Regions from separate parts of the Homo sapiens genome. Here all the other regions are linked to region 1. The links come from fine-mapping of genetic effects on gene expression. A gene starts in region 1. Each other region holds a variant in brackets. All regions are shown on one strand. Distances are from middle to middle. Region 1 holds the start of BLTP1 (bridge-like lipid transfer protein family member 1). Region 2 overlaps IL21-AS1 (IL21 antisense RNA 1). Region 3 overlaps BLTP1 (bridge-like lipid transfer protein family member 1).

Region 1 (4,250 bases):
TTCTGTTTTTCCTTCTACTTTTCTTCAGATAGCCTTTCTGCAGTGTTTCATCTTAACAAACCTGAAAAGTATGGCATTTTAACTAATTATACAAGGTATTCTGGCTTTACGAGCAGCATAACCATTTCTGATTATATGATTTCGTTACTTAATCATGCACAAACAGGACGAAACTCTTTTAGTCCAATATTACGTTTCCTTGTTTAAAGTTTCCAAACAACAAATACTCCTAAGTATAAAATAAAACTACAACTTCCAAACTGAAGCCTTCCAAAGACTCCAAAACCACTGTACTTAAGAGCATGAGTTTGGTAATCAAAGGTCCTAGAGATCAAATCCTATGTTTAAAACATAACTCAAAATGCACATTGAGAAAGTTTCTCTCAAACTGTTGGGTCCTTGCCGGCAAGAACAGTGCCATAATGTCCTTCCTGGCATACTTTTTATCAAATGAAAATCTTGCAAAATCACAGGGTGCTTGGGAGTTGGTATGGCATACTGACTAAGGGACTGCAAACGAGTCAGATTACCTGGTTTCAGTCACAGCTCTGACTTTGAACATGTTACTTTGTAGGTCTATTCTGTTCTTTCATCTAGAAAATGGGAATAGTAGACTTTACATTATAGGATTGTTTTGATGATTAAATGTGATAATATATGCACATAATTATATGTACCACTCAATAGTTACAAAGTATTCTGGTTATTCATCTATTTTTATACTTTGTATATTTAACTTGGAATAAAACAACTTCATTGCTATGCACAGGGTGAAAGCAGAAACCACTAAACCGGTTGAAACTTACAGGCGCTTAGACAGTTATAAAGCCCATGATTTCCTTAAAAAGGAAATTCACATGAACTTTTACCTTTAACAAACGTCAACACTAAGGCCAACAGGAAGGTAAAAAAAAAAAAAAAAAAAACGACAACAACTAATACTCTCCGGAAGAAAAATCAACTTCTCTTCACCTTCCTTTGACCAATAGGAAATTCTGCTGAAACGTAGTCTTCTAGAGTGCAGTGCAGCAAGCACCAATTCAGAATACAAAACACATCAATCCCAGAGAAGAAAGCGGGGGTTGTTCCAAGGCTTCCCCGCCCTCGGTCAACCGACCCTATATTAAGCAGCATGGGGTCTACTACAACCCAGTGCAGCTGGCAAGGCTGCAGTCCGAGCCTGCGGGTGCACGGTCCTTCCTGCCGAGTCCACACACCAGCAAGTGGAGCGCCTTACCATCACCCGCAGGAACTGCTCCTGTATCAAAGTCCCCAGCCATCCGACTGCCATGGCCCTTCCAGACTTTGCCACTGACCTCCAACCCTCGGTTTATAGGTGCCAGGGCTGTAGGTAAGGATGGCAAAGGAATATGAAGGAGTCGCCGCCGCAGGCAGCCACTACTAAGCCAAAGCTCTCAGACTCCGACCAGGTTGAGTTCCAGAGACACTGGAAAAAGGGGCTGACGACCTCAACCCCGTCTGGCCCGGCCCATCCCCTCACCTGGGCGAGTGCCGAGGCAGCCCGAAATCCCTCTGGCCTCTCTCCGGGGAACGCCGAGGGCCTTGGGCGGCGGCAGGGGCGGCGACGGCAGCAGCACCGAGCCGGATGCAGCCTGCGAAGCTCTGCCGGTGCCCACACCCTTTAGCCCCGCCGCCCGGGGCCGCCGCCCAGGTCCAGACCCTGGCCGCAGCCACCGACACCCAAGGGGGCGGAGGAGGAGGGGAGGGGTCCCAACCGAGGCCGGGCGGCACTGCGCCTGCGTCAGGCAGCAACGTCACACGCCAGCGTCGCCGGCGCCTCGAGGTGCGCCACTCAAGCCCTGCCCAGGAATCCGGCGGCGTCCCGCCCTGTTTCCTCCTCTCTGGGCTGCAGAAGGAGCCAGAACCCTGAATTTGAAAATCACTTTGCTACCCTAACAACCCAAAGGAAAAGTTAGTGCCTTCCTGATAGCAGGAGACAGATAAGCCCACTTAGGAGACGGAGGCTAACGAAAAAGGAGCATCGGATGGGTGTATGACGTGAAATGAGTCCTTAAGAAATAGAGATGCTGTTATGACATGATCAATAAGAGAGCTCGATTGTGTGAAGTGCTGCCACGCTGAATCTCTCAACTAAGTCTATTATTATGCTGATGATATTAATGAAAAGTAATTTGCTGCTCCTCTTTTTAAAGAGAAAGGCTCTTAATATTATTTAGCGGGTGAACCAAGGCAAACGACTTCTTGGAATTAGAGGAATGTCGCAGATATTTATTTGTCTGCGCTATATACTAGCAATAGTAAACAGTGTTTAGCAGGGCTTATTGACTAATCCTTCCAAAATCCTGTGAGGCTATTCTCATCCCCGTTTATCTCCATTTCACAAATTGAAAAACTAAGACACTGAGAGGTTAAATAACTTGCTAGAGAACCAGGGTTTGGACCCAAGAAATGTGGCTCCAAAGTATTACTGTATACTGCCTCTGAAGTTCCAAATGTCTAAATCTCTAGTTCTGACTTCTTTCCGGAGCTGAGGTACTTACTACAACCTTAATATTTCCACATGGCTGTTCCACTCTCACCTCAAAAGGAACAGATATGAAACCAAATTTAAGATAATGCCAGAAAACACACGAGGTACAACAATTAACTGTTATTGCATATAAGGAAATAGAGGCCCAGACAGAAGTGGTTTATGGAAGGACTGGATGAAAACCAAAAGGAGAAAAGCATGCACTGTCTTAGTTACTTCCTTCTGCTACCTGGACACTGGTACTGGCCTTATGTCAATTAACTCTTTAGAGTTTATTTCTGCCCCTCTACAAAGAAATTAATTTCAGTTGTCTTTTTCAACATCTGGAAGATTTCTAGTCAATCTTTGTTTTGTAATAAGGGAACCACCACAAGGATTCAAATTTGCTACAGCCAAACTTCGGATTTTGCCCAAGAAGGACATTGTGCAAGTACAAGTTCTCTGGACTAGAAATTACCTAGAGATGGTTCAAGTTCCCCAAATCAAAAACTAAACTGAAACTAAGTTGCACTGTAGCAGAGGGGAGAGGAGAGAAGGAAGTTCACTATGGCCTTTCTGTAACCGTGTGAGGGGACTGTGGGAATCTGGAAGTTTCTGCCTCTACTTCCTTTCCATCCCTGTGATCAAGAGTCACCCTGTAACTACAGCTATGCATTAGGCGACATTGTATAAATGAATTATTTATTTTAGAAGCCTCTATTCTAAAGGCCTTTAGTCTTGTGAAAATAATTATGCTCTTTGACATTTCATATGGCTCACTAAATTTGCATGGCAAGGCTTACTGCCTTCTCCAGTCTCCCACCTATTTTTCATTTTTCTCTAGCATGCCGTTAAAGTAAGGATGCCAAAGAAACTGTCTCCATTGAATCCAAGAAGAATTTCTCTAATGATGAAAGCCTTCAAGTGATTTTTTATATCTTACTTTTTATTTGAAATAATTATAAATTCACAGGAAGTTGCAAAGATAGTTCAGAGTGGTCTCATGTACTCTTCACCCAGTTTCCCCCATAGTTACATCTTGTATAATTATAGTACAGTAAGAAAACCAGGAATCTGACATTAGTACAATGTCTGTATGTAGCTCTATGTCATTTTATCGTGTGTAATTCCATGTGACTATCACTACAAACAATACAGACCTCTTTTATCACCACAAAGATCTCCCTTTTACTACCCCTTTATAGATGCACCCACCCCTCCTCCCCATATAACAACCCTAACTCTTGGCAACCAGTAATCTGTCTTCCATCTTTGTAATTTTATCATTTTGAGGATGTTATATAAATGAAAGTGTACAGTGTGTAACCTTTAGGAACAGGCTTTTTTCACTCTACATAATTCACTTGAACTGTATCCAAATTGTCATCTATATCAATAGTGTGATCTTTTGATTGCTGAGCAGTATTCCAATATATGGATGTTCCACAGTCTAATCATTCACCCATTGAGGAACATTTTGTTGTTTTCAGTTTGAGGCTATTACAAATAAAGCTACTATAAACAATAGTGTACAGGTTTGTTTGTGTGGTCTAGTGATTTTTTAAAAAGGAAAACAACACAGGAAATTTTGGCCACTAAAAAGCATTGTTTTTTAAACTTCTATTTTAAGTTCAAGGGTGCATGTGCAGGTTTGTCACATAGGTAAACTTGTGGTGTCATGGGGGTTTGTTGTACAGAACATTTCATCACCCAGGTATTAAGCCTAGTACTCAGTTAGTTTTCTTGATCCTCTCCCTCA
Region 2 (4,250 bases), 490 kb before region 1:
AGAAACTCCAAATTAGAATAGAATGAAGCAACATTCTAGGCAAGCATGTAAAGCTGGACCTGTAGGGATATCCTTCCTCAACATGCACACAACCAACCCACTTCAGCTACTTTTGTGAGAAAGTACTCGGATTTCAGTAGTGAAGGAAAGAAATAAGGAAAAAAGAAACAAGGAAAAAAAGACCTGAGAGTTGGAGTAGACCAAACCTGAATATAGTGGGCACTGGAGCACTGATCAAAAGAGAAACATGTGTCAGGCTGCATTGTTAGAAAAGTGACTTAGAAAAGCTGAAGTTTTTTGTGTATTTGCTTGTTTTGCAATTAAGAGAGTCATAACAGATATTGGCTATCACCTGGGGTCATTGTAGTTGGTGCAGTGAGACAGGTGTGGGCAAATCACATCATTTGGTGCTTTCAGTTTATAAGCAATCTCTTGTTTCAGTGATTATTAAGGATAAACTTAGAAGGAGACAGGAATCTTAATTAGACATGTCCATTCTGAAAGTCTGTGGAACGAGGAAAGGACTCTTCTACTATCTTTGTCTTTGGTGAGGAAGGAGGAGTTTATTAACTGAATACACATATATGAAACCCTCAAGTTTTTTTTCCACACTTGTGCTGAAAGCCTCCTCTTGTTCCTCCACACTCCACCTCTTGAGTCATTTCCTAGTCACCTGTCATTATATTGTGGGGAGAGGAGGAAGTGGCGGCGGGGGGAGGGGGCACACAAAATGTGGGGCCTGGGAACTATCCCAACTTACCACACCTGGGACAGCACTGTCACCACATTTAAGAGCAGATGTAGCAAAGTGTGATGTCTAGAGAAAAACTAGGGAAAAAATGATAGCATTATTGGAAACTAGGTCCTATAAAAGAATGTTGAGCCCATTTGGTGAAATATTTAGAGAACAGACCACATGGTGTCTTCAAATAAACAAGTGGAGGTTTATTTAAGGGTGTGAGCAATTGTGTTGCTGTGGCAGAGGGTGGAGATGTAATTAGAGGGTATATTTACTAATCTTGAGAATATTTTTGCAGCTCCTACAGCTAAAGTCCAATGAGAATTCCAATAGACAACCACCTTGGAAGACTTGTGGGTCATAATAACCGTGGGTTTGCAAACCAGCTGGAGCCAGCTCTTTGATTGGTGCCCTCTGCCCCTGCCCCTTCTTAGTTGGATGTTGCAGCCAATTGTGTGTAAACGGGAGCTCATCTTCCACACTGTCTTAAGTGGCATTCTCTACCAGGTGATTTAACTGCATAATTCATTGCTTGATTCATTCTTATACCAGTAGAGAGAAATTCACATTTTTATCAGCCTTAGAAGAACTTTGCTCGTGGATTTCCAAAAGTACAAATTAAAAGATCATGAAGAGAATTTGATCAATATTTCACTTTATCTTTAACATTCCTTAAATGCCTGCTTGTTTGCCTGCTTTCTGTTCTGCGTCTAAAGCATTCACAGAGCCCATAGGCTCTTTTGGGGCAACCTGTGGCTCTCCCAGACTGAAACTTCCATAAAGCACTGTATGGGGCACAGAGAGGTTGTTTAGCTGCTCTGGCAGTTGGCAATTAACATCTTCGTGAGATCACCTCAACTGAGGTGTGCAGAAAAGTCAAAAATAAAACAGAACTCTTCAGACATTATTTTATCATTTAATTAGAAACTAACACCTGTTCCTGGGTTTTGTACTGCTTTTCAGTTACATCTTCTATGACTAAAACAAGACATTCGAGTATATATCTATATTTACAAACCATAATAGTGTCTAAATTTTGAAACAATGAAACTACTAGATGAAATTATAAGCTAGAAATCTTTAATATTTACTGTGTAGTATTACATGGTGTATATGTACCACATTTTCTTTATCCAATCCACTGAATATGGGCACCTAGGTTGATTCCATGTCTTTGCTATTTTGAATAGTGCTGCAATGAACATACATGTACATGTGTCTTATGGTAGAACAATCCATATTCCTTTGGGTATATAACAAGCATGAGATTGCTGGGTCAAATGGTAGTTCTGTTTTTAGTTATCTGAGAAATATCCAAACTGTTTCCCACAGTGGCTGAACTAATTTACATTCCCTTCTATCCATAGCCTCGCCAACATCTATTATTTTTGGACTTTTTATTATTAGCCATTTGACTGGTGTGAGATAGTATCTCACTGTGGTTTTTATTTGCATTTCTCTTATGATTACAAGTGGGAGCTAAACATTGGGTACATATGGACATAAACATGGGAAACACTGGAGACTGCTAGAGAGGGAAGAGAGCAAAGGCTGAAAACCTACCTATTGGGTATTATGCTCACTACCTAGGTAGTGATCATTCTTACCCCAAAACACAGTGTCATGCAATATGCATACGTAAAAAACCTGCACATGTATCCCCTGAATTTAAACTAAAAGTTGAAATTATTTTTTAAAAATGACATAATCATCATCATGTGT[G/AG]CTGGACTGCAATAATGGCCCCAATATTCATGCCTCCCTCTATCCTTACCCTTTGGTGCTAGCCCTCCGTGCTGACTCTGGGTTTGGCCATGTGGTTTGCTTTGGCTAATGAGACACCAGCAAAGGCTTGGAAAGGGATTTGCTTGTTTCCACTTTCTTTCTTGGACCCCCATCAGAGTATGACCAGGCTAGCCTGCTGGAGGGATGTGAGAGCCATGTTGAGAAGAACTGAGTTGTCTCAGCCAAGGCCAATCTGCCTTTAATCCCAGATAAATGAGCAAGCCCAGCCAAGATCAGTTAAGCCTACCCCAGATGAGCTGAGCTATGAAGCCAATCCACAGGCTCATAAGAAATAATAAATGTTGGTTGTTTTTAACCACTAAAGTTTTGGTGTTGTTGGTTACGCAACTGTAGCTAGCTGATACACTGTCTTCTTAGGTGCATTAGGATTTTCTTTGCTTGAGGGAATATTTTTTAAGAATCTCTAGAGGCCATTTCGGGGAGCATGCTGTAGTCTTAGTATAAATAACAATCATTTGTTTCAGGCAAAACTGTCTGCCACTGGACTTTCTCCTAGAAAGGCAGCAAACATCTGCAGGGTATTACAGTAGTGTTAGGAGAAAGAGGAAGTAGCCTTGTCAAGGCTTACAAAATGAATGCTCTTATTTACTATAGACAAATGATTGGAGGGTGTTGTAATTGGGTGAGTGGCAAATGCAGACAGACTGTGGGGTGGTGACATGAGTGATGCTAGAACTCTTAGGTAGAAGATGGGGCTTGGCCGCCCCTGGTTTTCTGGAGATACAGAATCACACTGACTACATAATAATGATGGTGATGATAGCTAACGATTATTAAGCACTCACTTCCAGTCATACTACATGCTTTACATGCATTCTCTCATTTCTCATAATAACTCTATGAACTGGGTATTAGGTAATATCATTAGCTCCATTTTACAAATAATGAAACTGAGGCTCAGACAGCTTCTTCAAGGTCAAATTGTGCTTAAGTCATAGAGCCAGGATCAAATTCAGGCAGTCTGACTCTTTGGAGTCATGCTCTCGACCTTTCTACTATTGTAACCAAATACTTATTTTTTCAGAAAAAGAGAAAAAGGAATTTAGTATAATTCCCTCATTTGGCAGATGGACAACTGAGAGCCAGAAGTGTTTGGTGTAGAGATTCTTTGACTAACAAGGTTTAAAGGAATTCTCCCCTCTAGGTCCAAACCACCAAAAGCTGAACAAAATTCACACTGATTTTTGTGAGGCTTCATCTAAGACCAGTTTGTACATACAGGTATGCCTTTTGTGTACTGCAAAATGGTGCCCAGGTGAGGGTTGGGTAGGGTCTGAAATCTACAGTGCACCCCCCTCACCAAGCCCTGTGTCCTAGCATACATCTTCCTCCTCGCAGAGGAAGAGGTACTTTTGAAGATAATTTTTTTGCACAGAAAAGGAGTTGTTTTGTTTTTTGCATTTCCACAAAAGCACCAGATGTGCTCGGAAGTCCCTGCTAAAACACTTGCAAATTGTGCCCAATAAAACACAGCTAAAGAGTGTCCCAATTTTTCACACACACACAAAATTATGAGAAGTGTGACTAGTTGGTGCTCAGTAAATACTTGTTGAATGAGTGAATTTTAAATGAGCAAAGATGCCCTCGTTATACACAGACACATAGGGACCAAAGCACATGGGACACACAAATTCACAGCCAGAACCCAAATCCATGGCACCAACTCATCCACGAGAAATAACTGATTTCCTGTGCACATTTATCTAAT
Region 3 (4,250 bases), 68 kb before region 1:
AACCCAGATTTGAGCCTTGGGAGTAGACACAGTGTGAACCCTCTCACTGTGAAAGAACATTAGATAGTATAACGACAGATGAAGAAAAAAATTCTTAGGAATAGTCGTGTCAACACTATAGAATGTAAACAAGGTAAGTAGACAAGCAAATTCCAAGAGGATATATATGGTACCTTTGTCTTCGGGGTAAGTTGTCAACAATCGGGGAAATGAATTATCACTAGTACTTCTACTTTCACCTTGGTATCTCTACTCCATGAACTCCTTCTCTAATCCCCAAATAAGTCATACTTTATAATTCAGTCTCTCCACAAGTTTGCATACCTCTATAATAAGAATTAATGTGAACATTCATAATCAGCTCAATAAAATGTTTTCTATGTCTGGAAAAGCCTTTTAAAAGTGCAGTGATTAAAAGTTGAAGGGCTACCAGGTACTCATAAAAAACCAGGGATAGTCATCTAAGTTTCTCAGAACTCATCCATAGAAGACTTTCCCTTTTCCCTTTATTAATTTCCTTAATAGACTGAAAAAGGGAGATGGGCTTCCTCTCCACATACCTGCCTCCCAGAATAAAAAACAACCGATTCTAATGACCTGCTAATTATAGAGAGGACAAGAGGTTTTTTTTTTTAAGGTTAATATGGCAAGTTAAAATAATGTGTTATGTGAGATCTTTGTGATGACAGAATAGTTCTGTATCTTCATTTTGGTGGTTACATGAATCTACACATGATAAGAAGACCTAGAACTACGCACACACATTGTATCAACGTCAGTTTCCTTGTTTTGATACTATAATTATGTAAAATAACTTAACCATGGAAAAAAACTGGGTAAAGAGTACACACAGGATCGCTCTGATCTTTGCAACTTCCTGTGAAACTATAATTATTTCAAAATAAAAGTTTAAAACCAGAAACACACATTCTGTGGCAAAACAAAAACAATGCCTAGCACATATTAAGTTTTAGCTAATATGATCTCATATATGTCAAATATATGTATGAAAAATTAAATTAAAATTCCATGAAGAAAAATATAGTCAGTGATGGCAAAAGAATGAAAAGGAGATATGCTATTTTAAATAAAATGATCAATTACTACATATAATCATAATAAATGATCATTCATTGATGATTTCTGGTTGTCAGATTCACCTTCCCATTTATAATTTTACTTTGTCTTGTATTAAGTTCCATTTATATTTCTAAATCACACAACTTGATTAAAAGTAAGACAGGGGCATATAAAGTGGTGGTAGTTGCCACAGAAAGCCATTTGGCATGAAAAAAATAATAAAATTATAATCTACCCAGAAATGTAATACATTTTCAAATTCTCACTTGATGAATATCATTGGTTCTCTTTTAAAAGAGCCCAGAGGTATCTTGAAGGAATTAACAAAGTATCTTATGTTAGATGAATAAGAATAAATCATTGATCATGTAGATACACACGTTTTAAAATATTATGGTACTGGTTAATATTAACATTTATGCTGTGATACTCAACAGAACCTACCAACATTTTATATAGTTAATTTTTCCCTTCCATAAATATTTGAGAAAGTACTTATTTCCATTTCTATTATAATAGCAAAAGGTATAAAATATAATTGGGATCACAGAAATAGGGAGCAGCAAAAGAAAATTGAGATTCTTGAAACAACTCTCATACACATAAACATACATACAAAACTTCTTAATACAGTTAACTTAAAAGTCTCCAACTTAAAGAGCTACAAAGTCCATGCACAGAAGCTAATACATTGTTTTAACCCAATAAATATTAATAATAAATCTCTATGTCTCCACCATATTTCATTTTCACCTTACCTGATAGTTATCACTGACAAACACATTCAGGGGTGACAGGATAAGTTGCAGCATGGTCTCCCTAAATCCTTTTTTCATTTCAAAACATAGTCTTTCCAAGAAAGCTGTAGGGCATTCAGGACCATCAGTAGTTCCATGCTACAGTCAAATGAAATAGCACAGTTGAAATGCAGAAAAGGCAAAAAGTAAGGAAGTATAGGAAAATAAAAATTACATCTGTCATGATTAAGAGAATTTGTTTTTCAAAAACAGAGAAACTATGATTACTGAGAAAAATAACTATTCTGTACCTCAGTAGGATCGTTAGCTGCACTAAGCAACAGAGGGCCACCGGCCCCACCACCCCACTGCAACCCGGACACACACCTCATCTGGCCCTGCACCAAAGTCCCTGGGTTCTTGGGGCAATTTAATATCATTCCATGTCAGCCAGAACAGGTCCACAGGTTGTCCTTAGAGCGACCCAGGATACCGTGCTAGATCCAAACTACATAATTCAACCCCCAGGGTCAAGCCAGAAACTCCATTTTATAACAGGTCCACCATAAGGCCCCA[A/G]ACTGGTCTGGGGTCTAGAGATAAAAGCTAAGAAAATGTAAAGTCCTTGAACACCCATCAGGTTAATTATAAACCCAACAACTCAATGTATGACACGATGTCCTGACATTACACATATAGCAAAGAAGGAGCTAAAGTTAAATTAGAAGAAAAATAGAAAATAAAAATTACCAATGATCAAGTAATCATATTATGAAGAAAATACATGAGTTTTATAACAGTAAAAGAATAAATTTAGAAGTTTCTAAATCTGATTTTCTTTTTCTAAGTGTGTGCTGAATGCTTCACATCTATACACAGGTGGATGTTATAATATATTCCAGACTACTTTCATGTGTAAACACTTACAACAGGAAGACGCCCATGAACTTTGTACAAATTAACAAGTACAGTAATATCCCAAGGACGCAAGGCAAGTGGATGAATTGACTTGGCTGAACCTTCATTTTCCTTTTTGTCATTTTCCATTCCAACAGCAGTCCACCCAGAGCTGGATGATGTTGACAGTGACAAAACAGGACTTGAGATAACCTCTTCAAAATCCATATACATGTCATCTTCCCCAAAGTAGTTTTCCTATAAATATTAAGAAAACACAAATTGCTGTCAAAAGAGGTATGTAAATATATTTTCACCTATGAGCCTAAATTTGTAAATTATGCATTTCCTTAACCTATTATATTTAATAAAAAGGCATCAGGCCTATTGTCTTAAAATACAAAAGAAAACATATGTTAAGACTTACACATAGCTGCTTGGCAAATATTCAGTAGCAAAAAATGCAAAAAGTTACAGAGCCTATTTTATAGAAAAACTTCATGGCATTGCCCCAATTACAGCAAAACCTTGTAATTTAGGTCCTCAGAGACCTCTGAAGGTTTGCATGGTTAAACAGTTTTCAATCACTGCTCCTCAGAGTTCTCAGGCAATACCGAGGACATCCTTTGGGGGAAGCAATTCACTGAAAATCAGTCTGGCTAAATTCAATTAGGTAACTAGTACAATTCACATATTCCTGTTGGAATATTTATTGGGCATGTTTTAACAGCTTTAATAAAAATATCCAATCTTGGTTATTGATGAGATAAAGGCATGTGTTACCAACAATTAACAAAAATTCCTTTCACATAGTTCATCCTGGTTTTTTATGCAGAAGTGTTTCAACTACTGTTTTCTTTTGCATGAAAATATAAATTTAGCTTCAATTTAATTTATTTTTTCCCATTGATTCTATATTTAAATTTTGGCCATTTGATCTCTCAGTAGTAAATAAAAGTTGTTAAATATTCCTGTTAACATTGTCAGCATATCTGTTAAATATTAGAACCAAGACAGTATTTTGGTAAATTCTGCACTTTGGTTATTGACAAAATTATCTTCTGACTAGAGTTATGGACATCAGTACATAATATCTTTTCATAGGAAATAATGTTGAAGGGCTTAAAGTCATACAGTTAATTGGTAGGGGGATTAATATTTAAATCCCAAACCTACCGGCTCACAAAACCAGTGCTTTTTCCTCTATTCCCTATTGCTGTCCACCTCCTAATTACAGATGCCACTTGAAACCTGCTTGAAATCTTAATAACTGTCTTTATAATACAATTCTGAAGCATGGACAAATTTATGCACAAATATAACAGAAAACACTGGGTTATATTTTAAATTCCAACATTGAATTTTTAAAAAATAACATAAATGTCTAAGTGAGTTCGATCAACATTAAAAACTTGAAGAGATAAAACAAAAGGCTGGTTCTTTGACAAGACAAAAAAAAATGATGGACCATCCATGAGATTAACCAAGAAGAGAAGAGAGAAGATCCAAATAAGATCAATTAGAAACAAAACTGGAGAT

What was found. PIP is the estimated chance that this variant, and not a neighbour inherited with it, causes the effect. A credible set is the group of variants that fine-mapping cannot tell apart.
Region 2: its variant is the best candidate, but not a certain one, in a credible set for the expression of BLTP1 in monocytes (TOPMed, PIP 0.79).
Region 3: its variant is the best candidate, but not a certain one, in a credible set for the expression of BLTP1 in nasal epithelium (TOPMed, PIP 0.61).

The regions. Positions count from the first base shown.
Region 1 is chr4:122,149,836-122,154,085 of GRCh38, reverse strand. BLTP1 (bridge-like lipid transfer protein family member 1) reads right to left here and starts at 1,755. Exons shown (of 88, transcript NM_001384125.1): 1 at 1,502-1,755; 2 at 1-61. RefSeq lists silencers at 1,501-1,580, 1,651-1,840 and an enhancer at 1,663-2,464.
Region 2 is chr4:122,635,791-122,640,040 of GRCh38, reverse strand. The region is part of intron 7 of IL21-AS1 (IL21 antisense RNA 1); the gene reads right to left. Among named protein-coding and RNA genes, the nearest start is that of IL21, 17 kb to the right of the region's middle. The variant G/AG (reference allele first, on the strand shown) is at 2,462.
Region 3 is chr4:122,218,059-122,222,308 of GRCh38, reverse strand. It overlaps BLTP1 (bridge-like lipid transfer protein family member 1), which reads right to left. Exons shown (of 88, transcript NM_001384125.1): 21 at 2,742-2,969; 22 at 1,839-1,976. Among named protein-coding and RNA genes, the nearest start is that of BLTP1, 68 kb to the right of the region's middle. The variant A/G (reference allele first, on the strand shown) is at 2,394.